3 separate regions of the Homo sapiens genome follow, and regions 1 and 3 are each linked to region 2. Evidence: fine-mapped QTL for protein levels in blood plasma. Region 2 holds a variant in brackets. A gene starts in each other region. All regions are shown on their reverse strands.

Region 1 (10,694 bases), not on the chromosome of region 2:
CTTCCCACCTTGGCCCCCTACTCCCCCCGTAACTGGGAATACAGGGGTATGCCACAACACCCAGCTGATTTTTATATTTTTTATAGAGACGGGGTTTTGCCACATTTGCCCAGGCTAGTCTCGAACCCCTGGGCTCAAGTGATCATCCCACCTCAGCCTCCAAAAGTGCTGGGATTACAGGTGTGAGCCACCATGCTGGTCCCAAGTTATTATATTTTTATATTTTCAACAAATGAGTAAATAAGCCACTGGAATTCTGTCTGAAGATTTTTAAACAGGTTAGAAAATTTTGTGTAAGTTTTTAAAATGTGCATACACGAGAGTTTTTATGGTGCCACACTTTTATTGTTTTGGATAACAAAATAGCCTAATGATAAGACATTTCCAAATATCTCATTTCAAAATATTTTCTCCACTGCATAGTTTATTTTTGTCTTTTGCTTTATTTATTGTAGAGTTAACCATACGCCACAGCACAGTTTTATCATCAGTACCTGTAAGAGCTCTCTAGTGAATTATTTCCGTAGTAATACATCTTATTTATATGCTTACTGTGTACCAGACACTATTCTAAGTACTTTACATATTGATACATTTAATCTACACAATAGCTCTATGAAATCAGTACAATTATCACGATTTTACAGATGAGGCAACTGAGATGCAAGGGGTTAAGTAACTTGCCCAAGGTTACATAATAAGTAGTAAAGCTAAGATTTACTACCAAGGCAATTTTGTACCAAGGCAGTCTGTCTCATAAACCCATGCTTTTAATTGCTACAGTACACCACAAAGATTGCACTAGTCACATGCTAACACTGATATTGTCCAACTGTCTGATTTTTGCCACTGTGATGAGTGTAAAGTGACATTTATAATTTACTGTATAACTTTGGACAAACTACTTAAACTCTGTGTGTGTTTCTTCATCTGTATATTGGAGATAATAAAATAATACTGATTTCAAATGGTTGTTGTGCAATTTAAATAATAGTAGTGATGTTGAGTATCTTTTCTATATTTATTGTCCATTTGGGGTTCCCCTTTTGGGAATTGCCTATTCATACCTATTGCCCTTTTTTATTGGGTTTTCTTTTTCTGATTGATTTGCAGGGTGTGTGTATGTGTGTGTGTTATGAGTTACATGTCAGTTTTAGACATTTATATCTCCTTCTATCATTTTGTCTATGGTGCCCTCAGTTGAACAGGAATCTTTCATTTCATTTTGATATACTCAAATCCATTAATTGTGTTCCAAATGTAGAGAGGATAAAGATATGAAAAACATTGTTTTTGCTCTAAGCAACTTAAAACTAGCTGGAGAATCAAGAATAACTATGAGAACAAGTGTTAAACATTGTATAGCAGTCTGCAATATAATGCCCCAAGTTGTAAGGCTGTGTAGCCAACAGTATAAACTTGGGAAAGTATCTAAATCTTCCTGAGCTTCAGTTTTATTTGGAAAACGGAAGCAATAAAAAAGACCTTTCCATTTACTGTATTTTTTAAATTTTTATTTTTTATTGTTATTATTTTTTTGAGATGGAGTCTCTCTCTATTGCCCAGGCAGGAGTGCAGTGGCACAATCTCGGCTCACTGCAACTTCTGCCTCCCGGGTTCAAGCAATTCTGGTGCCTCAGCCTCCCAAGTAGCTGGCACCACAGGTGCCCACCACCATACCCATCTAATTTTTGTATTTTTAGTGGAGACGGGGTTTAATCATGTTGGCTAAGCTGGTCTCGAACTCCCGGCCTCAAGTGATCCGCCTGCCTTGGCCTCCCAAAGTGCTGGGATTACAAGGCATGGGCCACCGTGCCCAGCCTCCTTTCTATCTATTGTGAAAATTAAATAAAATAAGAGATGTTGAATGGCTTTCATAGTACCTGGTGTATAGTACCAACTACAATTTAGATGCAAAGCCGATCATGAAATAATAATGGCTATCACATACAGAGGTCTACTACCTGCCAGGCACTTTTTATATGCATCTGCTTAAATTTCACAACTCCCTGCAAGGCATTATCACTGCCATTTGTCAGAGGCAGAAACCTAGGTTCAGAGGGCTTATTATTTGATGCAAGTCAGGCCATGCAGCTAGTAAATGGCAGTGATAGGATGGAAAGCCAGATTGGTTTGACCTCAAACCTCCTGTGCCTTCTACCATGCCAAGCTGTTGTCAGAAAAGATATGAAGGAAGCAAACTTGACGTGGTTCCTGAAAACAAAACAAACAAACAAACCCAAGCATTTTAGTAGATAAGAGGAAGGGAGGAAAGATGATACCAGATTCTGAGAGGGTGCAGTGGATCTGCAAGGGATGCAATGTATTGTGCGTTATTCGAGGGCAGAACTTTATCCACAATAGTTCCCTTCAATCCTTGCACAGTGACCAAGACAGAGTATCTGGTGCGGAACATCTATTCCCTAATCTTATTACCATAACAAGGGAGCAGGAGTAAGTTGTCTGACTGGAGAGTTTGAAAGAACTGGGGATGTGTCACTCTACCCCCTCAAGTTTGGGGAGCAGGCATGTCCCAGGAGGCACATATTTTCTGCTTTTCCATGCAGTTTAGTTTTTACACAGGCAGGTTTTCCAGCTCTGCTTGTGACTGAGTGGACATGTTCAATTCTGGGCCCGCTGTCCCTGCAGATCTAAAGCCATGGCTGCCATTCCAGCCTTTAGCAGAGACAAAGCTGACATTTTGCTCTCCATAAGTCTGACTCCTGTTGCTATCTCAGTGGATTCTGAACTTACATGGGGACCATGGGTATTATCTTGAAGCCCCCTAAAGCCACAACAGTGGGCACTCAACAAACCTTGGCAGCAGAGTGAGTATGACAAGTTCAGAGGACAACGAGGAGATGGGCCTGCTTTGAGCGGAGGAAGTATGCTGATGTAGTTGAAGAGAAGTTAGATGGACAGGGTGGGCCCAGTAATGCAGGGCTTATAAGAAAGGCAGAGTTTGGATTTGATGTGGGTAGAAGAACGCTGAAGTTTCTGAGTAGAGGAAGAACATGAACACGAGGAAGACAATGTTTAAAATAAGGGAAAGAATATGACAATGGATTGCAGTGGAGACTACAGGGGAGAGCCTGGAGTCAGAGGACAACGAAAGGAGGTTTCCAGAATTTCTGAGTGAGGGAGGATGAAGGTCTGGCCTAGGAAAGTGGACATGTGAACGGAGGCGAGGGGATGCATATGAGATCTCAGCGGCTAAACTGCCAGGCTATGGGTACAAGCCGGCTCTGAGAAAAGGAGATAGGTTTGAAGGCAACCACCCTGAAAGAGGTAGATAAGCAGGCCCTGAAGCTGGGGGAAGTGAGGCTTAGTCTTGGGCATGTGAAATCTGAGTTGCTAAGTGGATCTGCTCTCCTTACTAGTTATGGCAGGAAAGGCGCCTTAATTAGGAGCATTTTAGGGAGTTAACCCTGTCAAAGAGGTAGCACACTTTCGAAGGCCAAGGGCTGGGAAGAAGGTGGTGAAGATGGCAATCCTGAACACAGAGGCTACTTGGGATGACAGGGATGGGAGGAGGGACACAGGTGATGAGTGAGTGGGCGGAAGAGAGGAGGGGGACACCGCTCCCCGGCCCGAGGGAAGGAGGGGATGAGGCTGCCGGCAAACGCTGGACTCAGGATCTTCCCAGCAGAGCAGGGCGGCCGCCACCTCACCCGGGACAATGCACTGTAGAACCCACAGCAGCCTTCCCCACGCCGGCCGGTCTTCCCGGCCCTGCGCCCACTTCCCGGTGCCCCGCTGCCCTGCTGCCGTGACCCCGGGATGCGGGGTCTCCTCTGCCTCCCTGGGCCTCCCCCTTCAGCCATGGGGGGCGGCTCCGCTTCCTAGGCCGCGGGACGTCTTTTCCTCCAGGTTCCAGTCCCGGACCTTCCCGGGCCCCCCACGGCACCGCCCACCTGGCCACCGCCGCAGCCCGCCCGGGCCGCCGCCAGCCAGCAGCCCCTCCCGGGGTGGGGTTTCCCTTCCCCCTACCCCTTTGTGGCAGGGACCCACGGGACACCCCCTCTGCCTCCGCTCCACGTCCAGGGGGCCGAAGGGGCGCCGGACGAGGGACCGTGCGGAGAGAGGGGTTCGGCGGCGCCAGGACTCCCGCGGGCTCCCCGGAGCAGGGGTCGGAAGGAGGGGGAGCGGGAGCCGCGGGGGCCGCTGCAGCAGAAGGGGGAGGAGAATGGGGAGGAGCTGGGGGGGCAGGCAGGCGGGGAAGGAGAGGTCTTAAGGGGCGGCGAGGGGAGGTCGCATTTCCTCCGAGGCTGGCGATCGGCGGAGCTCCCACCTCCGCTTACAGCTCGCTGCCGCCGTCCTGCCCCGCGCCCCCAGGAGACCTGGACCAGACCACGGTGAGCGCAGGGCGCACGGCGCGGAGGCCGGACTCTTCGGGCGGCCGGGGGTGCTTGGGCGGCCGGAGCGAGCCTGCGGGACCCGAGCAAGTTTCCCAGGTCAGCGCGGGGCCCGGCGCCTTCAGACTCGCTCTCTTCTCTCTTCCGCAGATGTGGAAACGCTGGCTCGCGCTCGCGCTCGCGCTGGTGGCGGTCGCCTGGGTCCGCGCCGAGGTAGGCGAGGGGCCGAGGAGTCCGAACTCGGTCCCCGGGGCCTCTTGGGTCTGCGCGCTGGGCGGGTGGGCGCGCGTCCTGGGGATGCTCTCCCGGGGTGGCGCTGGGAGTTTCGGTCCTTGGGGTGTGCTGGGGTGGAGCTGGGGCAGTAATGCTGCTTACGAAACTTAAATCTTTAAAGCAGGAAAAGTAGTTCGGGCCGTAAGCGGGAGCCCCGCCGCGGCTAACATGGAGGGAGAGCGGGGAGGAGGAGAGGGGACGGGCTGGGCCGACGGGGACGAGGCGGCGACTGGAGCAGCAGCGAGTTCAAAAAGGCGCCTCAGTTCCGTCCTTCACTTCAGAGGAGACTGAGAGTAGTTGGGGACTTTTCCCTCCCAAGTCTGTCTCCTGGGGGCGGGGGCAGAGGAATCGGGATTCTTCTTTTGGGGCAAAATTAATTTTCCTTTCTCTCTTTTAAAGTGAGATCATGATTCTCTGAAATGTATTTTCTTCTTTGTGAAGTGTCCTCGGGTTTTGTGTTATCATCTGGGCAATGTAACGGCCTTTTCCCAAGTGTTCCCTGTAACGTTGCGCAAGTGTAAGAGAAGATCCATTGCTCTGCTCTTTGGGGGCTCGAGTTTCCAGTTAAAGCATTTCAGCGCTTGTTTTTTTGTACCAATTTTTTCAACTCTAACGACCTTCCTGAGACACTACAAACAAACCAACAAACTCTTTGCTCAGAAGCCGCTCCATTAACTCAAAGGTTTATGGACAGAAAATAAACAATTCTAAATTCCCCGGGCTCCAGTCTCCAGGAAAGTGAGGTCAGAAACTAAACATTTGATAATTATGGCAGGAAATATGGAAGGAATTAAAAAGCATGAGGGAGAAGAAATGGAATGCACATTACAAAAGAAATAGCTCCCTGGTGGGTGGTTTATGCTCCCTGTTTGAATTTTTTCCTTCATATTACAGTTTAACCACACCCTTAGCATCGCAGCTTGACTCTGCCCAAAAAAGTCATAAATGCATACAAGGTCTTCACAATTTTTAAAAAATACGCATTGTACTGAATTCTCATTTAATTCACTACTACGTTGTTGATTGAGGTGGAAACTCAATCAACTGTTTTTACTGCCAATGAAATAAAAGTAGCTAATATTTATTAAATATCTGCTATGTTGTAATAAAATTCCATTTTAATGACAGATAAATTGAGTCAGCGAAGGTTACCCAATGCTCTCAGCTATTAAATGCTAAGGGTGGGATTTGAACCCAAACAGTCTGGCTCCGGACCCAAGGCTCTTGACCATTAACCCACACCACTTCCAAGCACAATGGTTTAACATTTACCAAGTACATTTTTGTTTACCACACACTGGGCTGTGTACGTTACCTGCAGTTACTTCTTTTAAAGCTCCCAAACCCTGTAATGTAGGTTTTATTATCCCGATTTTACAGAGGAAGAAACAGGTTTAAGGAGATTAGGTAACTTGCCCAGGGTCATACAACTAGTTAGCTCTGAAGCAGGATCTGAACCTACCTCTCTTACCTTTGGAGCCCATCTTGAACTCCAGGTCTGCTTCTTATCCATCTGGTTTTCCAGGGTTTGCATTTGAGAGCGTATCCCCCTTCACTGGCTGATGTAGCCCTGGTTAAGAAACATTTCTCCATCCCCTGCTGTGGCCCTCAAAAGGCAGTTGCAGACCAGTGATGGATGAGGTGAATCCCTGGTTGGTTTTCCAGCAGGCTCAAGAATTGCCAGCCAGTGTGTGAAATCACTCAGTGAACTGGAATGCAAATATGAGGTGTGAGGAGGCTGTTGGTTGACTTACCAGGCTGTGTGGCCCAAGGTCTGGAATCTATTCTAGGCGGCCTGCAAGACACACACCCCTCCCAACCCCCTTCCACACAGGGAAAACTTATCCCTGGTAGGAAGTTCCCCCAGCAGCAATTTCCTGCTGGAGGTAGAAGAGCATCCAGTGCTCTCACATAATTCCCAGGCAAACTACAGGGAAGAAGGCAAAATAGAGAAGTACTGAGATGTGAAAACAGAGTGCGTTGGGGGAGAAAAGAGGCTGTGAACTCACAGTGTATGGAAATGGTTACAATGAAAAGAGTGAGGGGTAGGTATGAGCTAGGTTACATTTCATGGCTCCAGGTTATTAAGGATTATTATCTTTTAATTATTCCAACCTCCTGGTGCCTGGCCAAGTAAGATTTGGCAAGTTTTTAATCCATTTAATAATAATATACCTTTAACAATTGATGAAGAGGTACATTAACCCTCTCCCTATGGGAATTGTAATTTGGATTTTTTAAAAGCCTTTTATCTTGTAGTTAATGGTGCTTGCTGTTTAAATTTCTTCCTTGTTAACTCTAAGGACAGTCTGCAAAAATGGTCACATCATGATATTTACAGTCCTTAGTGACAATCTATTTTAGTAAACTTCAAATCGCTAAAATTGTACAAATATTGTTGAACTTTTTAGAAATGAAATTTAGAAAATAAATTGAGGCTTCTTGGTGCTTTCTGCTTTTCTGCGACCATAAATATTTAATTCAGCATATTTTTAAACAATTTAATCACTTTACAAATCATGTTGATATTTGAAGAAGCCAGAGCCTCTGTAGTAAACCAGAATCAGAGGTGCTCTCCACTTGGGAAAAGGTGATTGTCATCAGTATTAATGCCAGTCTATGTCAATCCCATTTGGTTAGATTCACAAAGCTATTAACAAAAGTCATAAAGGAGCCTGGGCTCAGTGGCTCATGCCTGTAATCCCAGCACTTTGGGAGGCCAAGACGGGAGGACTGCTTGAGCCCAGGAATTTGAGACCAGCCTGGGCAACATCGTGAGACCATATCTCTACAAAAAATAAGAAAATTACCTGGGCATGGTAGCACACACGCCTCTGGTCCCAGCTACTCAGGAGGCTGAAGCAGGAAAATCACTTGAACCCAGGAGGTTGAGGCTGCAGTGAGCCGTGATGGTGCCACTGCACTCCAGCCTGAGCAACAGAGTGAAACCTTGTATTTAAAAAAATAGAAACAAACTCATTAAGCAAAGTGTCATATTGTTTTGAATGTGTTCCATGGTGTCCTACTTCCTTGGCACCTCAGGGTTGCTTTCTGATTGCTTCTTCTCTTTCTTACCTGCTCACTCTCTTACTACTCTGTCTGCAGCATATACCTTCAGCCAGCCTCCCTCCAGATTCTGCCACATCCACCTGAGCACACACACCCATGCACTCTGTAGTCTGCTTGAAAGAAGGTACTGGGTGTAGCATATGTCTCTAGATGTGTGTAGATTAACATGTGAATGGACTAGGCAGAGAGGGCAGCAGCAGAGGGAGTGCCTGCACTAATAATTACACAGATATCCCTTTTCTAGATTCTCTGGGGAGAGGACTGTGTGAGCCTGCTCATCTACTCTTTCCCATCCCCCTCCCATTGGGAATTACTACAGTTCATTGAGAAGTGTTGATGGTGGATGCATAGTATGGAGCCTGGGAAAATGTTAAGAACACAGGCGGTAGTGTGTGTGCCCTTGAAGCTCAGTCAGTGGATATCTGTCACTCTAACATGGCAGGCTGGAGAGAACCCTGTGGCCCAACTGCCTGCTTTAGGAAGACAGCCCTGGCAAGTACCCAAGCATACCCCCACTCTCCCTTGGTGGATGTCTCTGCTGTCACTATGATTCCCAGCATTCCAGGTCTAGAAATTCATTATGATAAGTCACATGTACAGTTAACTGATTTGTAGTTCAGAATCCTCATTCCAGTAAGGGATCCATGCTTGACCCATGAACTTTGAGTGTATTACCTAAGAGAGAACAATAGCAATTCTACAAATAGATGTACTTCACTTAGCTCTAGACATGCAATACTAGAAGATTATGAGGGCTTTGTCCTGAGGCCACGTTTCTTAACCTCACCGTACCCTATTATCGGCATTGTACACTAGGGGTTATATTTGGGAGCTCCTCTATGTTCTTTAGAATTGTTCTGATGGTAGACTCAAGTAAGCCTTGCATCTAACCCATATCTCTGACTGCATCTTCTTGGTGCCACAACTTGTATTATTAACAAAGCTAAAAAGATCTCTAAAATGATCTCTTGCTTGTTTATCCTTTGGCAAATAAGCTACTTGTTGCAGTTCTAAAGACCATTGCTGGAAATTGGGGTGTAAAACATAGCAGGGGCTGTGCAGACTAGCCAGAACAGAAGGGCAAGCACCCAGCATAGGAGGCCCTGGCCATCGCAAGTGGCTTTAGAAGGTGGACACGTTACAGTTCCCCTAGAAGTCTCTGGATTGGGTGACAGAAACCAGGACTCCATCCCCAGGCTCATAGAAGCAAGTTGGAGAGGAACCATGAGGTGAAGATCTGGTCATGGGCTGAAGTGGATGTAATGATCCGAGAGGAAATGCCCCAAAGACGAAAAGAAAGTCTTTGAAGTCAGTGGGGCAGAGCAACACATGCTGCCACAAGAATAGGAAGTAAAGGATGAGCTGTAAATTACCAGTGATCACATATGAGAATTGAAAATGTCATGGATTCTTTGTCTTAGTCCTCTTCAAATAACTGGACATCTGGCAGAATGTTTCTAACAGACATAAATTTTATTAGCTTAATGATACCAGTTAATAGGGAAAAAAAGTACATTAGATAGGTTCACTTTGTAAGCCAGATGATTAATGTCCTCAGAGGGCAAATGCATACTTTTTGTTTAGGATGCTCTATTCTGACTCCTGCGATTTTGGCAAGGGGTGCTTTCTCTGAGAGTATGCCATGAATGGCGTGGCCTTCCCTTCACTGTCCTCATCGAGCCTATCCCCTGCTGCAGCTGAGCGCACCTGGTACTCAGGTCAGAGTCACAGTGAAGCACAAGGCATGGTCTCTGCCCTCACATTATTTACAGTCTAGTGGTGGGTCCAGGTGCTTTAAATCGTGGCAGCTACAGTTTATATTATTATAACTACATAGTAACTAGTAGCTTTATACTTATTGCTGTTTTTTTTTTAATTTACATTAATGTAGGGCCTTCCTTTGTAAGATCCTTTTATGGTAGCAAAATGCACAAATCTTCCATGTATAGCTTCATGAACTTTTACATCTGGCCCATGTAGGCACCATGCGACAAGACTGAGGGAGTTAGTACAGAAAGGTATGAACCTGTATGTTACCATGAAGTTACATACAGGAAAAGTTACCATGAAGAAAATGAGGGATAGGGATGATCTAGGGTACATTTCATGACTCTCTGCCCAAAGATGGCTATCTTTTAATCTGTCTCTTCTCTTGGTGTCTAGCCCAGGTAACATTTAGCAAGTTTTTAATCCATGTTTTAACAACAGCAAACCTTCAATAATTAATGAAAGATAAATTAATCCTCTCTATATGAGACTTACTATTTGGATGTTATTTTTAACATTTTAACTTGTTAACAATAAATGGCTTTCCTTGTTAGCTACAAGGATGTGCAGCAAACACAGTGAAATACAGCCTTAATTGACATTAATCCATTTTAGTAAACTTTAGATCTGCTTTGGGGAGCTTTCTTGACTGTTTTGTGGATGGATAGATATTCCAGGGCTCACTGTAATCTATATTGAATTCCACAAAGAACTCAAATCATTCTGTTAGACCACTTTGCCCTGGTCATTATTACTTTTGAAAGGACTCTACATAAGATGTCAGTCATGTTATTTATGACAGCAAAAAACTTAACATTGACTACATAGTCAACCGTAGGAGAAGGGTTAAATAAATCATGGAACAGCTGTATGTGCCACCAAAAGCATTTACAAAAACATTTTGAAGCGCCGGCAAATGATTATAATTTAATTTAAAAAGCACACACCCCCCAGCTTTATTCTCACGACTGTAAAAATTTATAGAAAAGTACAACAAACAAATGTGTTAGAAATTATCTGTAGGTAGTGGATTTATGGGTCATTTTATTCTTTGCTCTAGTCTTTTCTATATTCTCTAAGCTTTTAATTGGCATATTTTATTTTCATATTTTATCAGAAAATAACACATTAACTTTTTTATTTAAATAAAATACCACATATTAGGAGAAGGGAAAATTCCTCTCGAAAAAAGGAGGGGATCACAAGAATCGTCACGATGTCAAGGCACTG
Region 2 (9,186 bases):
CTTGAAGCCAGGAGTTCACAATACCAGCCTGGGCAACATAGCAAGACCCCATCTCTACAAAATATGAACAAATTAGCCAGGTGTGGTGGTGCCTGCCTGCAATCTCAGCCCCTTGGGAGTCTGAGGTGGGAGGTTCACTTGAGTGCAGGAGATCAAGGCTGCAGTGAGCTGTGATTGCACCACCACACTCCAGCCTGGGGTGACAGAGCAAGACCCTGTCTCTAATTGGAAAAAAGAAAGAAAGAAAATGGGGAAAGAGAACAATAGAAATAAAAAGAACCAATGGCATCATCTGTCCAGACCTACCCTCTGAAGGGAGGCAGGCTGTAATTACCTGCATGTGTACCTACATCCACGTAGGTTGGCCTCAGACCTCTGAAATCCCTGGAAAGCCACTCCTTCCTTCCACTCAGTAGCATAGGATGAAAGGACTAACAAGTGGCAGCCCTGCCAGCAGCTTCCAGCCTTGGGGACCAGCTCTAGAGCCAGCATCCTGCCCGCCCCCGCCCGGGCTCCACGCTCAGCAACCCCAGCGCTGCCCCAGAAAGCAGGCTAGCACAGGGCTCCTACCTGAAACACTGACCTGGGCCCGTCCTGCCGGCTCGCCCTGACCGCTGGTTGGCATTGGCCTGGCTAATGGGATAGATCTGCAGAGCATCCATGCCAATCCTGGGGTTGAAGACCTAGGAGGGGACGGCAAAGAGCTGACGAAGGACAGAGTGAGGGGAAAGTGGAAGTAGGCCTGAGACAAAGGCAAGCCCTGGTTGCTACACATGGCAGAGGAAGAGCCAGGAGGCTCTAGAAATGTTCTCATGAACACCTGAAGAAGTCTTCCCCACAAACACCAGCTCTCTGAGCTCTACTGTTAAATTATCTACCTCATCGAGTATTACAAGGGTTAAACAAACCAAGCACAGTGAGTCAATGTGAGCCTCCCACCACCACCACCACTTCCACGCGCTCCCCACATCCCAGGGCCAGGAGCGAGGCCCTGGCTTCCCACCCCGCAGCTAAGTTAGCTTCTGGTGAACACCCAGGCCTTGCCTCCCATGTCTTCTCTTACCTTTAATTTGCAATAACCAGAATCGATAACAAACATGATGCCGTCAACAGTGAGAGACGTCTCGGCAATATTGGTGGCAACGATGCACTTCCGAACGCCATCTGGAGCCTAGAGCAGGACATACAGGAAGGGAAAAATGAGTCCCTCGAGACAGGAAAGGCTCCGCGAGGGGGAAAAGCCTACCTCCTAGCCCACCCCCTGCCAGGACAGTCACATCCCCTCTCGCTTCCTTTAGAGAACTCCAAGAGCCACTCCTGGACATTCCTGCTGACACACCTTCTGGAAGATTTTGGCCTGGAGGTCAGAAGGCAGCTGAGAGTAGATGGGCAGCACAGCCAGGGCAGGCGCGTTCTCCAGTTCCTCCAGATGCTCCACAATCTGGTCTGAGGTCACCTGAGAGCCCAGGGAGGAGCTGTGAGACACTGGAACCCTAACCTCTCATATGCAAGACACACCCGCTCATCACAGTCGTGACCAAGGCACGCACCTCAATGTCCTCTTGGCCAGGCATGAAGATAAGGATGTCTCCAGGGGCCCCCGACAGGTGCACCTGCAAGGACTGCTTCACTGCAGCCTCCACGTAATCCTCCTGTGGGGTCTGCAACAGCAGTGGGGACACAGTCAGAGGGAGGTACTAGAAGCGCAGGCCGGGCATCTCCTGGGAGCCCAGTGGCCCAGGCACTGCTCTGGAATGGAGCCATGGACTTTGAGGGCCACCACACCTCCACATGGGCCTGACTGCGAGGCCTCTACAAGAGGGCACAGTGCCTCCCTGGGCCCTGTACTTCAGCCTCAAAGAAATAATGAAACAAAACCTCACCCAGAGCAGAGTCCTTTGTCCCCGAGTCCCAGAGCTGCAGGCTGCCCCATTTGCCCCATGGTCCCCAGGAAATCTTCTCCAACCCAGTCCCCTACCCACCCTCCACCCTCCAGCCGGCTTCGCATCAGAGAAGTGCGTGGCATGGAAGGGTCAGTTCGTAACATGGTGGCCTCAATACCTTGCTGAAGAGGATGTCAACAGGGAAGGTACGGCCAGGGATGTGGAAGATGGGGACATTCCCAAAAAAGGCAGCAAACTTCTCCGCATCCATCGTGGCTGATGTGACGATGAGCTTCAGGTCTGAGCGCCGAGCCACTACCTGAGAGAAGAGGCGGCTCGGAGGCCCCCATGGTGGGGACCCTTGGCTCCTGTCCCCCAGTCCCATCAGCACCACCCCCGAGGAAACACAAGCCAAAGCTGACAAATGGGCCTATTCAATTCTTACCAATCATGAAGACTGAAGCAATGGAGCCACTGCCCAGAAAACCCCAAGCCACCCTCAGCAGAGCAAGAACAGCATGAACTACAACCCGAGTCTGAACTGCAACCAGAGGCCTCAGGAACCTCTGGCCTACCAGAGACCCCCTCAGCCCACCTGGAGCAACCCACTAGCTACTGGTGGTGCACTGGTCAACACCCCATGCGCAGAGAGACCAAACCACACAGCCCTCACCTCCCGGAGCAGCCCAAAGAGCACGTCAGTGTTGAGGGAGCGCTCGTGGGCCTCGTCCATGATGATGGCACTGTAGTGATCCAGGTCGGCTTCCCGGAGGGACTCTCGGAGCAGGATCCCGTCAGTCATGTATTTGATCAAGGTGTTCTCTGAAGTGCAGTCTTCAAAGCGGATGGCATAGCCCACCTGGAGGTCAGAGAGATGGCTCAGATGCCCTGGCCACCGGCTCACCACCAGCACACCCCGTACTGGGGTCCGAGTCTTAGCAGATCACACCCTTTAGCAAAAATGGGTGGAAGCTACTAGGGAATAACTACATGGCTCAGCCCCCACGCCCACTCACCTCCTCGCCAAGGTTTCCCCCCATCTCTTCACTGACTCTCTTGGCCACTGACATGGCAGCTACACGCCGGGGCTGGGTACACCCAATCATCCCATAGTCCGTGTAACCATCTTCATGCAGGTACTGCGTCAGCTGAGTGGTCTTACCACTCCCCGTCTCCCCAACCACGATCACGATGCTGTTGTCTCTACAAGGACAAGCAGGCAAAGGGCTTATCAGCCGAAGTGGAAGGCCAACACCCAGCCTCCAAGAAGACTCCGCTACCTCCTATCCCCATGACTAGCTATCCAGGGAGCATGCCGGTTTAGAAGGGAGAATTTCACTGGGACAACAGCCTCTTACTGAGATAACACCTGAAACATCTGGAATACGGTGAGGTTTAAACAGGTGAGCTAAAACAAAATGGTGCCATCCCGTTACTTTGTGCAGTGTACCCCAGGCATGAGGTCAGAGGAAAAAAGTATTTCCCTTCTCCACTGGGTGCAATGCACAAAAGAAAAAGAGCTCCTGGGTAAACATGGGAGACCAAGGGCACCCCTGACTTGACACTAGATTCCTGGGCCCCGGGTGAAGTTACCTGATAATAGTGAGCAGCTCCTGCTGCACTGCAAAGATGGGCAGGTACTGCCTCTGCTCCAGGATGGACTTCTTCTTTGCAAATTCACTGCTGGCTTCGCTCTTTCTCTTCATGTGATCTGCAAACTTCTGCTCTGTCCTAGGAACACACAGCAGCCTAAACACCCTGCATGGTGCCCCATGCTGTCCTTCCTGATTGGGTTGCTGCCCTCCTTCCTACGCTCAGGAATGAGGACTTCGGCAAGAGTCTGAGACACCAAAGCAGCCAGGGAATCTGAGATGGTTCTCATCGACCTCAGGACTGAAACTGCTACTTGAGAATCCATCATCCACAACACACTCGACACCACAGGGTCCAACAGAGCTAGCTGAACATGGATCGGAGGATTTACAGATCACCATATTAGCAAACCCTCTAACCAAAACAGAGTGAGCAGAAGAGGAGTGGAAATCAATCCCCAGGTCACTAACTTGTAGAAAATACCCTCGGGCAATTTCAGCACAACGTCTAAAGGGCTAAAATAGCCACACAGGCCTTGTGAGGAGGTAAGGGTGCAGAGCACGGGACATGGGTCAAACTTCCTCCCTCCTCTTGGCAGGACAGCAGGAAAGCATAGTCTGTACGGTTTTGTTTTCAAAGAACTGTGAAAACAGCCCCACTAAACAGTAACCTGCAACCTCTACTGAAAGCTCTCAATGTCTGACACATGTACACACCCGAGATGCAGAGCACTGTCACTTTCTCAAGGCTGCCTGGCAAAAAGACACCAGTTCAGTGCTCCACACAGTCCACACACCCCTCCCCAACCCCCTCCCCAGAGACTTCCTGTCTGATGTGCCGCCCCATGCTCTGCTGAGCTTCCTATTTCTAATTTCACCCAGTCCCTCCTGGTCACCCAATAACTAATACCTGAGGAATTAAGTTAACTAGAGAAGAATAAGGGCTGATCAATAGTACCAACTTCTCGTATGGACATTTCACACAGGAGTGGAGAGAATTATTAACTCAGATGACCGTTCAGTAGAACATAAGGGCATTCGAAGGATGAGGATCTTAAGGGACAGATAAGTCCAGCCACCTGCCCAATGCAGGAATCCCAACTCAGCATCTGCTTAGATGCCTCTATGAGCAGAGAAGTCACTGGCCAATAAGATAACCCTTTCTATTTTGGAACCTCTTTTAAAAATAGTTCTTATAGTGAACTCAAATCTAAGGGACTAAAACCCAGCTGCCCATGCTGAACACCTGGGAGGTACTTCAGCAGAGTGGCTCTGATGTGAGACGGCCTGGGTCTGATCCTAACTCCCTCACTGACAAGCTGGGTGACCTCAGACAAGTTACTTAACCTCCCTGGGCCTCCTTCCTCTCACAACACCAGCACCAGAGGAAGCAGTGTGAGGGAGGAGGAATCACATATAGGAAAAGTGGAGGACAGTGAAGAGACCAGGAGGAAGGGACCAGAGAGAATGGAAGATGCAGAGAGGTATCCTAAGAGTCTCCCACTCAGGAGCCACAAAGTCGATGGGTTCTGCCGCAACTGCCCACATGGGCCCCCATCTTTGGAGCAAGGCTGATGTGCTGCTGGCTGAGGCTGCCCACCTGTAGTCCACCTTCCCATCCTCCGTCACAGCTTTATCTGGCTCTTCCTCCTTCTTGACGCCCATTATATCTCCCAGTTTGGTCCCCGCCAGTTCCCAGTGTTTGTGCTGAGCCTGAAAAGGAAAAAGGTCAGTCTGCTCCATCCTGCCACATGACTGCGAGCAATGGAAAATCAATCCCACGGGAGAGCAGACTTCACCCCGCAGGTGGTAAACTCCCCCAGAGTGCTGGTGGCACCGAGCCACATTCCAATCCTCAAGCCTCCAGCTCTCCCAACACCAGGCCCCGCAGCTGTCGGGCCTAAGGACTTGATAGAGGGGACTCCTAACTTCTATCTGTGGGCCTAGTAAGACTTATGAAGAGAAGAAAAAAGAAAAAAATACACATAAACTTCCCAGCCACGAAACCAAGAAACCAACCTTCTTGCGCTCCTTCTGCTCCCTGTGCTTCCGCACTGTCTGGCTGCCTTTCCGAGCAATGATGGCCAGGTCAGAAGTAGCATCCTTCACTGGAATCACCGGCTCCGGCTGCAGCAGTGGGGAGAAAGAGCGATGCCCGTTAAAATCAGCAAGAAGGCCATGTTCATAAGATCCCTACTTGTGAAAGGGACTGCTACCCTCTCATGGTACAGGGCTATTTTCTCCCTTCTCTTCTTTCTGTCTCCACATCAGGCCTTTTTTGTGTGTGAGACAGAGTCTTGCTCTGTCGCCCAGACTGGAGTGCAGTGGTGTGATCTCTGCTCACTGCAGGTTCTGCCTCCCAGGTTCAAGCAACTCTCCTGCCTCAGCCTCCCGAGTAGCTGAAACTACAGGTGCCTGCCACCACACCCGGCTAATTTTTGTACTTTTGAGACAGGGTTTCACTATATTGCCCAGGCAGGCCTTGAACTCCTGGTATCCAATGATCCACCCTCCTCAGCCTCCCAAAGTGCCGGGATGACAGGCATGAGCCACTGCACCTGGCCCACATCAGGTCTCTCTGAGCTGTCTTGTCCCTGGCCACAGAGGAGCCTCACCTGCTTGGTGAAGACAATGCGCCCATCCAGAAAGGGAGGCACCAGATTGTGCACCATCAGATGCACCTTGGCCGCGTTGTCCTCTTCAAAGTCCTCATCCACCTCCAGCCGATGGACCACCCCACTGGTGAGCATGCGGTTTGTCTCCCAGCGCTCGTTATCCTGTGAGGACACAATGGGAGCCACACTCAAATTGCCACCCCAAAGGTCGTCCTGAAAGGTTATGAGGTAAGTCCACACATCAAGTCCTGACAGAAGGCCACTGGTAGCTGCAAAGATGTCACAGGCCTCTACCCACAGCTCCAAAGACAGAAGAGGTGCTGATCCCAAATCACCTGCAGGAGTTTGTTCCAAGCAGCAGCACCTTTCATCTAAATCAGAACCTCTAGAGGGACACACAAATGGTAAGTGTCCCTAGCCCACATCAGAGACACAAAGAACACAGACCACAGAGGCAGGTCCCAATGCACCTGTTCCCATCAACAGTACTTCCCCTCAAGGAAGTACTGCAAAAGAGAGAAGTACGAGCCGGGGCTTTCCTTAAGCTACTAAAAGGCTCATCACCCACTCCTCTTCCACCTCCAGAGGATCTGGGCTTCTCGGCAATCAGGGGACAAGCTGTGCTGCCCTCACTTGGGGATAACCTGCTGCTTCCCCACGTGCTCTACCTCCAGCTCTGAATCTGCTCCAACTTCTGCAGGCAGCCTCACCTCATTGATCTGTCTCCGCTGAGCTGAAATGCGCTTCTGCTTCTGTTTATGCAGGTGCTGCTCCCGCCTCCTCACGTAGTCCTCGGAGGAGTAGGCCAGCGGGTTGTGGAACTCGTCATAGCCCTCGTCCATCATGTACCAATCCCGATCGGCTTGCTGCAGGGCAGGAGGCAAAGCAAGGGAGTGAGGGACAGATCAAGTTTATGCACGAGACATGGCCAACAGAAGAAGGGACGCTTGGTAGGAAGTCACTACTGCAGTGGAGCTACCCTTGTGAGGGGTGCAGGAGAGGCCTCCCTGCAGACACATGCCATCTGGAGGAGAACCACAGTGGGCAACTACACAGGACTGGAGGGCAGCCCATCACGATAGCACTTCTTAGATTTACCACATGGTGGCACCAACACATAACAGAACAGTTAGGTCAGCCTACTGCAGTGAGTGACAGGGTTCACCGTGCCGTCTATGCCTCTGCAAAGAGACTCCAGGGCATTGGGTCTGAACAGGGCTCAGGTGTACCCTCATCAAAGCCCAGTCCTGCTAGAGGGTCACCCATCTACAGACGGCCACCAGCCCCGATCAGCCCCTCAGAGGTATAAAACTTTACCCTCTGGTCATCTTCCCACTGCTGCCGCTCCTCCTCCGTGTCAAATGAAATTCCTTCTTCGCCCTCCTCACGTCTTCCTGGAGGAGCACAGGAAGCAGGTCAGTCCATGCCCTGGCCTGTCCCCAGCGGCCCCAGACAGATCTGCAGGGCCATGCAGCTCCAGAAGGGCAGCCCCTGCTCATCCTCGCTAGGGCAAGCAAGCCTGCTCTTCTGCCTGCTGCCCCACAGGCCTCACCTCGGCCCCTGGACAGACGCGGGGTGGACCCCAAGTGTCTTCTGTCATCGGCCCACTCGTTATATTTGTAGGAGGGAGTTGGCAGAGGCGTGTCATCCGAGTACTTGCCCCTCACAGACCTGGGAACAGCAGCACCAGCATCACAAAACTGTCACTGAGCTAAGCCACGTCCTCCTGGCCACCATCTGCTCTCCCTGCCGAGGCTCCTTACCGCCCACCCAGCGAAACTGGGCTGCTCTGCCCAGAACATCACCTGTCTCGATCTCGAGTGGACAGCCGATGGCTCCGCTCAGAATCCCGATAGGAAGGCGTCGGGGAGGGCGATTCCCACTGTGAGCGCCTTGAGGAGCCATAGCCACTGTCCTCTTCCTCCCAGGTAGACCTTGAAGGGGTGGCTGCATCTGGGCCACAAAAGACACATCCACAGGAAACATCTCACTTAACCATGACATGGTCTAGAACCAGTTGCCAAAAGTCAATTCCCCAAATTTACTCCTTTTACTATTTCTAAACCTTGCATGTATCTATAACGGTTAAGATCGGTTTTGACAGTTTTTAAAGATATCTCAATTTTTAATGGTCCAGGATGTATTTTTCCTTTTTTTCTTTTTTTGAGACAAAGTCTTGCTCTGTCGCCCAGGCTGGAGTACAGTGGTGTGATCTTGGCTCACTGCAACCTCTGCCTCCCGGGTACAAGTGATTCTCCTGCCTCAGCCTACCGAATAGCTGGGATTATAGGTACCCACCACCACCCCAGGCTAATTTTTGTATTTTTAGTAGGGATGGGGTTTCACCATGTTGGCCAGGCTGGTCTC[G/A]AACTCCTGACCTCAAGTAATCTGCCTGCCTCAGCCTCCCAAAGTACTGGGATTACAGGTATGAGCCACTGCACCTAGCCAATGGTCCAGTTTGCATTCTGTGTTTATGACAACATTTTAAGGGATATTTACTTTATCTCTACAAACACACCCTTCTTGGATATAAGTAGTTCTTTTTAATAAACACTTCTTCTACCTCCAGCTCCCTATTCTTTCCTACCATTTGGAAAACTGGCCATTCAGCAAACCAGCCTCTCACCTTACAGGAACCATATCCACCCCAAGTGCAGAGCTGTGCCCACCTGACTCAGAACCAACTATCCCAAGATGTTCATGGTAGAATCGGGAATTCTGACTCAATGCCTCAGCAATCTCACTGAAGACGAGAGTCACTCACTCTGCCTTTTATACACTTGAATCCTCACAAGCCACCAAAACAGTGAGTCTACCTTTAGGTCGATGTCGTGGGCTCTCGGGTTCATTTCTTCTGCTGCTACGCTCTGACCCTCCATCTCGCTCTGATCTGCTGCTGTGCCTACTTCTATCCCGCTCATCTATGAAGAGTCACACGAAGCTTAAAAACATGCATCCCATCCTAAGGTATACACATCTTCACCCTAGAGAAAGGACAGGCTGCCCACTCACTCACAGGTGCAACCTGCACTGCTCGAATGTGATCCGTGGACTCCTGAAACTCACCTATCCCCATTCTCCCAAGGGGGAAAAATA
Region 3 (8,000 bases), not on the chromosome of region 2:
AAATAGCCACATTTCAGGACCCAAAGATTGAAGTCTAGAATGTAGCATCCTTGTTGTTCTACTGTCAATCAGGATTTCAAAGGAGACACACACGGTGTTCTAAGACTGTGTGAAAGTGAAGGTGACCTTGAAAACAGTTCTTGTTTTGTTTTCAAACGAAAATAATAAATGCTGCAGGGAGATAACTGTCACACATTCTTTGAGACAGAACAGCCAACAATTTGCAATCCCATCTGCCATTTAAACTGCTGCAGAATTCTTTGGTAAAGACTGCTTTATGCTAAAGCAGGTAGTGCCAGCTTAGTACAAATGATAGACGAGAGAGGGTTGTGTTGACAGCCAGAGCAAAGCCCTGGACAGGCTTACTAACAGAAGAGATTCATTCCTCCTCAACTTGTCACATCTTCACAAATCAGAGGAAATTGTATGAAATATAATAGACGAGAAGAATTTGTGAGTGAAACTTGGAATTATTCCCAAAATTAAGTCAAGTGGTGGTATTTCTTTTTCTCTTTGGCTAGAAATTCATATTAAGGTAGAAAAAAGTGGACATTTAAGATTTAAGGAAGTTTTTAAAACATGGAGACTAGTCTTCATTTACTTTCATTCGAGACACACTTATTGAGCACATGTAATGTGCCTCATTTTATGCAAGGCAACATTAATGCAAAAACGAATGTTACACAATACTTGTCCTTGTCTCACTGTCTATTGGGGGAGATAAGGGCATAAACAAATAGTTACAGCATTATGTTATATATGCTGTAACAGGCTTTTACAAGGAGGAGGAGAGAGAGGCTCATGGAGAAAGTCATGTTTAAGAGGAGTCTTCAAAGGTGTGCAGTTCACTAAGTTGACAAGGTCAAGGAGGACCCACGTAGTGAAAGGAAAGCCATGAAGGAATAAAGTATGTCATACACAGGGAAGGAGCAGAGGGCAGCCATTGAAGGCTTTTGAATAAGGGAATGACATGATCAAAGTTTTGACTCTGAAAAAATCCTTCTGCGGGTATTAGGAAGGATTAGACTGAAGAGAGGAAGAGTCTGGAAGTAGGAACACTTGTCGGGGGCTCTGGCAGGCATTCAGACTGAAATCTAAGGGAGGGCAATGAGGTTGGAGCAAGGGGACATGCTGGCTAGTTGCTAGGAAAGTAGAAATGACAGGACCTAGTGATGGGGAGGGGAGGGAATGAAGGAACGAGAGGTGCCCAAGATTCCCAGGCTAGGCTGGCTTCATGGGCATGTGATTTGTGCAATTGCACAGCACCCCCTACCCCACTCAGGAGAGTCCCATGCTAGGTTTAATGCTCTTTCACTGTCTTTACATTAATAATAATAGAGGGGCTCCACATTTGTGCCCTGCTAATCATGCAGCCAGTCCTGTTCCCAGATCTCCGTCTTGAGCTAAGGGGTGGATTATGGTGCCAATAATTGAAATGGGAAACAGAAGACAGAACACATTTTGTTGTAGGAGAGGTGGGTGGAGAGATTTCAGTTTTGCCACAGATGAATTTCATTTACCTATGGGTCATCAAAGTAGAGATATTCAATGGCCTGTTGGAAATGGTATGTAAATTCCAAGTGAGGTACAAGCTAGAGATATGGGAATTAGAGGTTGAGGAGAGTCCAAGTGATGCACCCCTGGATATGGATGAGTAAAGGGAGCAGAAAAGAGAGACAGAACCTTTGGTAGCACCAATGTTTAAGGGATCAGAGAAGGGCAAGATAAATGGGAGAGGAGGGGTCAAAGTCTTGTGGGAAAATTCTGGAATTATGTCCTGGAAGCTAAGGAGAAAGGAGTCTCAAGAAGGAGGGTGTGATCATCTGAAGCATAAGCCACAAAGAGATCAAATAAGATCACAATGGGAAAACGTCCATTGCATTCAGATTAGAAAGTCAAGGGCACTTACCAAGAATAAATGTGTGCGCAAAGAATTGCAGGGTGCACAGAGCTTCCCCTCCTTCCTAGGAAGACATTGTAGATGCCACGCCCATTCCAAGCTCTTGGATACGAGGGGCGGAGAGGACGTGTCACTTTCTAAAGAACAAACACAACAGGTGGACCCTGTTTCTAAAGGGTTAACCCGCCTTCCCCGAGTGCAGGGCATGAGAGTTTTAGCCGTGGGCACCGTTTGGTGATTCTCCAAAGGAAGGAGAGGGAGTATAGAGTCTTTATCCTTCATTCCAGCCACATTGCCTAGAGCAGGAGTATGGAACAAAGCTCAAGCTTTGATTGAGCAAACCCTAGAATTTGCTCAATCCTTCCTTTGGCTTCATAGCTCAGGTTCTTGAAAGTATAGTTTGCTCTTATGCTCTGCTTTCCCCAAGTTCCTCCTCCATTCCATGGCAGTGTGGCTTCCATCTCCACCACGGTTCTTGGTAACTGACCTTGACTTTTTTTTTTTTTTTTTTTTTTTTTTTGAGACGAAGTCTTGCTCTTTTTGGCCAGGCTGGAGTGCAATGGCTCAATCTTGGCTCACTGCAATCTCCACCTCCCGGTTTCAAGCAATTCTCCTGCCTCAGCCTCCCAAGTAGCTGAGATTACAGGCGCCTGCCACCACACCTAATTTTTGTATTTTTAGTAGAGACGGGTTTCACCATATTGGACAGACTGGTCTCGAGCTCCTGACCTCGTGATCCACCCGCCTCACACCCCTTACAGGCATGAGCCACCATGCCTGGCCACCCTTGGCTTTCTAATTGCTGAATGCAATGGACATTTTCCCATTGTGATCTTATTTGATCTCTGTGGCTTATGCTTCAAGATCTCCCTCTTGAAACTCTTTTCTCCTTAGCTCAATCTTTGATTCCATGAGCAAATCTCCAGAGCTCAAGCTTTGATTCCATACAATGTAGAGTTTGTGTTGTTTTTACTTAAAACAGGAGGAGGCTGAGCAAGTATATGAGAGCACTGAACTTAGTAGATGAGAGGAGGGCACACTTCTAGGAGAGAAGCACAAAAGATACAGGTGGGAAGGGAGGTAGGCAAATTCATAGATGAAGTGGTCAGAAGGTGAGTGTTACACACACTCCTCCCCCTGCACATATACAGGCAAATTTTTAAAAACCTAATTTTCTCAGTAGTGTTCAATTTACTACTGCAAGTGAGGTGATCAGGAGAGCAGGTAGGCTTCTGAACAGTGCTGAAAGTAAATGACCTTTTGCAAGGGGAGAGGACGCTGAGCAGGGACAGGTAGCAAGGAGGGCTCAGCTGCTGTGAGAGCAGAGGTTAGGCTCAAGAAAGAAAAGGAGCTGAAAGATGCTTGCAGTGTGTGCACATGAAAATACGAAACTCTGGCCCAGGGTATTAAAAGCTCAACAGGAAGAAAAGACATTTGCCTTTTAATATTTTTCTTTTAATTAAGCCCTGAAGACCCTCCATTGCAATTCTACAGCCTCCCAACAGCAAGGACTTTCTCAGCGCTTTCAGGCTACCCAGCCGGCGCAGAGGATCCTAAGCCTCAGCAGAGGCAAAACCTCCCCAGGCTGTAGCAGGGCAAGTGCTGATTTGGTGAATAATTAATGCCTCACTCACCTAGACCCCAAGGCTCCCGCCTGCCTCAGACTCGTGCAGGCTTACGAACTCGTAAAGCAGCTGACTCTATGGTCTAATGATTAAACTTCTCTGGGCCTTATTTCGTTACAGCTAAGTTAAAAACTGACCAGCTAGCCGCTTAAACTCTTCTCCCGGAAATGACTGGAAAACAAGCCAAGTCTCCTGACTGGACTGACAACTAACTATACTCCCTGAATTCCAGCCACATTTGCCCAGAGCAGGACTCCAAGCTTTGACTCTGTCCATTGCTAAGGGTAGCAGAATGGGTGGTGGGGTCCCGTCACCAACCTCTTTTCCCTCTCCAACCCCTAGAAGGTGGTGAGTTTCTATGTACCCCTAATTTCACCAGGCAGGTTACACTGTGTTGTTAGAGACCCTTCATTAGAGGCCCTCTCCCCACCTCAGCATTTGCACACCATGGAGAATCGTCGAGATGAGCGTTGTGGGGAAGTGCCTCTCATGAGAGATTTCCACTTCCTGGCTGTGTCAACTCTTCCACGGCGAGATGGGAAACGGAGTCAGTAACAATAATAGTGTCATTTGAGGAATTACCTGAGCTAAAGCCATCATCTGGATATAGGTAGGAAGATTTTTTTTTTTTTTTGAGACGTAGTTTTGCTCTTGTTGCCCAGGCTGGAGTGCAATGGCACGATCCCGGTTCACGGCAACCTCCTTCTCCCAGGTTCAAGCGATTTTCGTGCCTCGGCCTCCCGAGTAGCTGGGATTACAGGCGCCCGCCACCACGCCCAGCTAATTTTTGTATTTTTAGTAGAGATGGAGTTGCACCATGTTGGAAGTAGATTTTTTAAAAACAGAACTGGACGTTCAATTCAATGCCGTGACCACCTGGGTAACAGGGATTACAGATAGGTCCTGAATAAATGTGTGCGCAAAGAATTGCAGGGCGCACAGAGCTTCTCCTCCTTCCTAGGAAGACACTGTAGATGTCGCGCCCATCCCAAGCTCTTGGATACTAGGGGCGGAGAGGAAGTGTCACTTTCTAAAGAACAAACACGACAGGTCGACCCTGTTTCTAAAGGGTTAACCCGCCTTCCCCGAGCGCACCGCACGAGAGTTTTAGCCGTGGGCACGTTTGGTGATTCACTTCTTGCGAACGTAAATGCGCGAGTCCGCGGTAGGTCCCGCCGGCCCCCTGGCTGGGCAACCTGAAAACCCACCTCGGAGACGCCCCCACGCATCCGCCCCCCTCGCTGGACGGCCCCGCCGCGCGCCGTTCTGGGACGCGCACCCCGGGGCGGACCCGCCCTGGGACCTGGAAGCGCCCCAGCCCCGCAGCGATCGCAGATTCGGCTTTCAAACAAAAGAGGCGCCCCGGGGGGTGGGACCGGGACCTCACCCGGTCCTCGCAGAGTTGCGGCCGCCCGCCCCTTCAGCCCCGGCTCTCCGTATGCGCATGAGCAGAGGCGCCTCCCTCTGTTCCTCCCAAGGCTAAACTTTCTAATTCCCTTCTTTGGGCTCGGGGGCTCCCGGAGCAGGGCGAGAGCTCGCGTCGCCGGGTGAGGAGAACAAAGTGGCTGCACGATTTTCCCCACTTTCCAGCCCACCCCCCGCTTCCGTGGGAGCGACAGGAAATGGAAGGGCGCCTCTTCTCTCTTTGAACATTTGCCTTTTTTCCCCTCCTTTCCACCTCTCCAGAAAGGAAGACGGGAAGAAAGGGCAGGCGGCTCGGCGGGCGTCTTCTCCACTCCTCTGCCGCGTCCCCGTGGCTGCAGGGAGCCGGCATGGGGCTTCTCCAGTTGCTAGCTTTCAGTTTCTTAGGTAATTCCGTGGAAACGGTGCGGGGAGGCGGACGGACTTGGGCATGGGGAAGGAAAACCCAAAAGCTGCTTGCTCACCTTCGTGGGATCCTGGGGGCTTGGGAGAGGGACTGGATGGAAATGACGCCCCTGGGATTAAACGCCACCGCCCTTGCTTCGGTGGTGGCTGGAGACAGCGCACGCGGAGCGCCGCGGACCCTCATCCCCCGGGCTCTGCGCCCAAGCCCCGGCCCCTGCGGCCTCCCGCGGCCCCCGCTCAGGGTTTTGCACCCTCGGCCGGTTCACCCTGGGTTTCCCCACCGCAGAGGGCAGGTTCCCTGGGGTTGGCGGTGCTGACCGAGGAGGGCTCTCCAAAAATCCATTGCCCAGGAGAGTGCCTGAGCTGAGCGGAGGCTTCATTCTGGGAACAGATGGGGGCCATGTGGCTTTAATTAACCATCTCTGTTTGTCTCCGGATGGCACCAGAAACAGCAGGACCTGGCGCTTCCCTGGAATGGAGAAGCCTTGAAACCACTCCAGAGCCCCAGGGACTGTCCATGGGCTCCCCTAGCTCCGGAAAGCGGCGTCCACCGCGAGCCCCGGCGCCTCGTCCCCAGCGAAGCGCCGGTGACCCTCGCGCGTGCACGCACACGCACTCTCGCTTCCCAAGCTCACAGATCTCCACGCGCACACTCACACCGAGGATGCGCGGGCTGCCGCGTGCACGCGGGTTCACGTGCGTGGGTGTGTGGCCCTTTGGGGGTCAGCCTCCCTGCGCCGGGCTCCGGACACGTCGAAGTGGAGGGTCTACACATCCACCCTTTGTTGGGGGAGCTGCTCCCCGGGGCTGATCAGGGTGGGCGCGAGCGTCGGTGGGTTTCCCGGGAGGGAGGCTCTCGCTGCTGGACAGACCTGATGACGTGTGTGGGTTTCTTTCCGTGTCCTTCTCCTTTCGGAGTCCCTGCCTTCCCAGCCTCTCCTGCGCTCATCTCTCCATTGTCTTTTCTGTGCATTTTGCTTTCTTCCGAATGGACTGTCCTCTCTCCGCACCCACTCCCCCGCCCCCGCTTGTTCGTTTTTTTCGGGCTCCACTCCCTGCTTGTGTCCCCCCAACTCTGTTGCCTGTCCTTCCCGCAGCCCTGTGCAGAGCCCGAGTGCGCGCTCAGGAACCCGAGTTCAGCTACGGCTGCGCAGAAGGCAGCTGCTATCCCGCCACGGGCGACCTTCTCATCGGCCGAGCACAGAAGCTTTCGGTGACCTCGACGTGCGGGCTGCACAAGCCCGAACCCTACTGTATCGTCAGCCACTTGCAGGTGAGGGCTGAGAGCGGGGTTCGAGGCTCTGCTAGCGCCTCCTCCCGTCCAGACCTAAGGGGCAGGCCCTGGGGACTCCGCATCCTTCCAGCAATCCAGATAGGAAGCGCAGCCAGCCGGGGAGTCCCGGGATTAGGCTTGTAGCTCAACCTTTCGCCCCATCTCAGTTTGCACAGTTGCATCCGCCACACATTTCCTGCCGGCGCGGTGAGTATGGAAAGGCAGGACTGCCGACAGCCCTGGCTGCCCTGACCCAGAGCCTCCAAAAGGCCTGATTGTGTGTGTGTTTTTTAAAACTTTAGTTTTGGAAGTGTGCATTAAAGGTGATTTATCCTCTTTTTAAAACCCTTGGGTTTCCCCACCCCCCTCTACCGCATCTTCACTTGGGTAAAGAGGATTCCAGCAATGACAGGCGTCTTGCAAGGTGATTCCAATCACTGAACGAACCCGTTTTCCTCTCCTCATTTGGTGCTGTTCCCAACTAGATATCAGGATCAGATGCTTGCTTTTACGAAATGCCCTGGTTGCCATGGTACCCTGATACAGGAAGACCACAGTGAAATTTCAGGGTGTTACCTGTTTCTAAAAGAGGGCCCAAATTTTAGATTTCAGGGGTCATATTTATACAAAGTCAAAAGTAATTTTAAAAGAAGACACAAAGTGTAAAATATTCAGAATCAGAATACTTTTCCTTCATTTTTAAAAAGGAGGCTGGCCGGGAGCAAAATGGCTCCATGCCTGTAATCCCAGCACTTAGGGAGGCTGAGGTGGGAGGATCACTGGAGCCCAAGTGTTCAAGACCAGCCTGGACAACATAGACTCAGTCTCTACAAAAAATTTTTAAAACTTAGCTGGGCGTGGTGGTCCACACCTGTGGTCCCAGCTGTCTGGGAGGCTGAGGTGGGAGGATCACTTGAGCCCAGTAGGTCGAGGCTGCAGTAAGCGATAATCAGTCCACTGCATTCCAGCTTGATCAACAAAGGGAGACCCTGTCTCAAAAAATTTTTTTAAATAAAGGCTGATATTTCTGGCCTCTAACAAAAGCAGAAAGTATCAGTTTCACATTCGGGGCAAGTTCCAAGCTAATTGCTCAGAACATGGTCAGCCCACCCACCTGTACAATTGCCCTTCAGAAGGAGGACAGAGTATTGTGTGTGGTTTGCACAGCAGATCCCTTAAAATGGAGTCACTTTTACAAAGCAGAAAGCCCATTCTGGAGACCTGATCAATTAGACCAAAGGAATGTGGTAAAGTGGATTCCGTTCATTTGCTTCCAGGTTTATACAGAGATGTCTAGACTGCTTCCTCCTGATTAGAAGGGAGGCTGTAATTAAACTTTTTTAAACTTTTTTTTTTTTTGAGTTCTGGTGATTGT

Alleles and levels. Alleles are on the strand shown, and positions count from the first base shown. The strength of an association depends on the size of the effect and on how common the allele is.
As copies of A replace G in region 2, the plasma level of the protein whose gene starts at base 4,260 in region 1 goes up (weak association).
For the plasma level of the protein whose gene starts at base 5,022 in region 3, G is the low allele of the variant in region 2 and A is the other (weak association).

Evidence for each region. A credible set is the group of variants that fine-mapping cannot tell apart. PIP is the posterior inclusion probability: the model's chance that the variant is causal. The UK Biobank Pharma Proteomics Project read protein levels with antibody pairs (Olink). The fine-mapping took linkage between variants from a reference panel, not from the people measured, so its PIPs are less certain.
Region 1: it holds the start of FSTL1, and the variant in region 2 is the best candidate, but not a certain one, in a credible set for the plasma level of the FSTL1 protein (UK Biobank, PIP 0.57).
Region 3: LAMB1 starts here. The variant in region 2 is the best candidate, but not a certain one, in a credible set for the plasma level of the LAMB1 protein (UK Biobank, PIP 0.50).

The regions. Positions count from the first base shown.
Region 1 is chr3:120,444,558-120,455,251 of GRCh38, reverse strand. FSTL1 (follistatin like 1) reads left to right here and starts at 4,260. Exons shown (of 11, transcript NM_007085.5): 1 at 4,260-4,355; 2 at 4,506-4,568. The coding sequence starts at 4,506. It overlaps LOC124900546 (a long non-coding RNA gene), which reads left to right and starts at 4,598. Exons shown (of 2, transcript XR_007096030.1): 1 at 4,598-10,694.
Region 2 is chr16:72,097,502-72,106,687 of GRCh38, reverse strand. It overlaps DHX38 (DEAH-box helicase 38), which reads right to left. Exons shown (of 27, transcript NM_014003.4): 4 at 8,907-9,011; 5 at 7,896-8,043; 6 at 7,643-7,761; 7 at 7,408-7,484; 8 at 6,801-6,956; 9 at 6,091-6,252; 10 at 5,495-5,602; 11 at 5,076-5,188; 12 at 3,477-3,614; 13 at 2,900-3,086; 14 at 2,557-2,742; 15 at 2,062-2,202; 16 at 1,551-1,661; 17 at 1,340-1,456; 2 more. Among named protein-coding and RNA genes, the nearest start is that of DHX38, 8.2 kb to the right of the region's middle. RefSeq lists an enhancer at 7,186-7,686. The variant G/A (reference allele first, on the strand shown) is at 8,458.
Region 3 is chr7:108,000,183-108,008,182 of GRCh38, reverse strand. LAMB1 (laminin subunit beta 1) reads left to right here and starts at 5,022. Exons shown (of 34, transcript NM_002291.3): 1 at 5,022-5,072; 2 at 5,212-5,334; 3 at 6,450-6,625. The coding sequence starts at 5,298. RefSeq lists an enhancer at 6,584-7,184.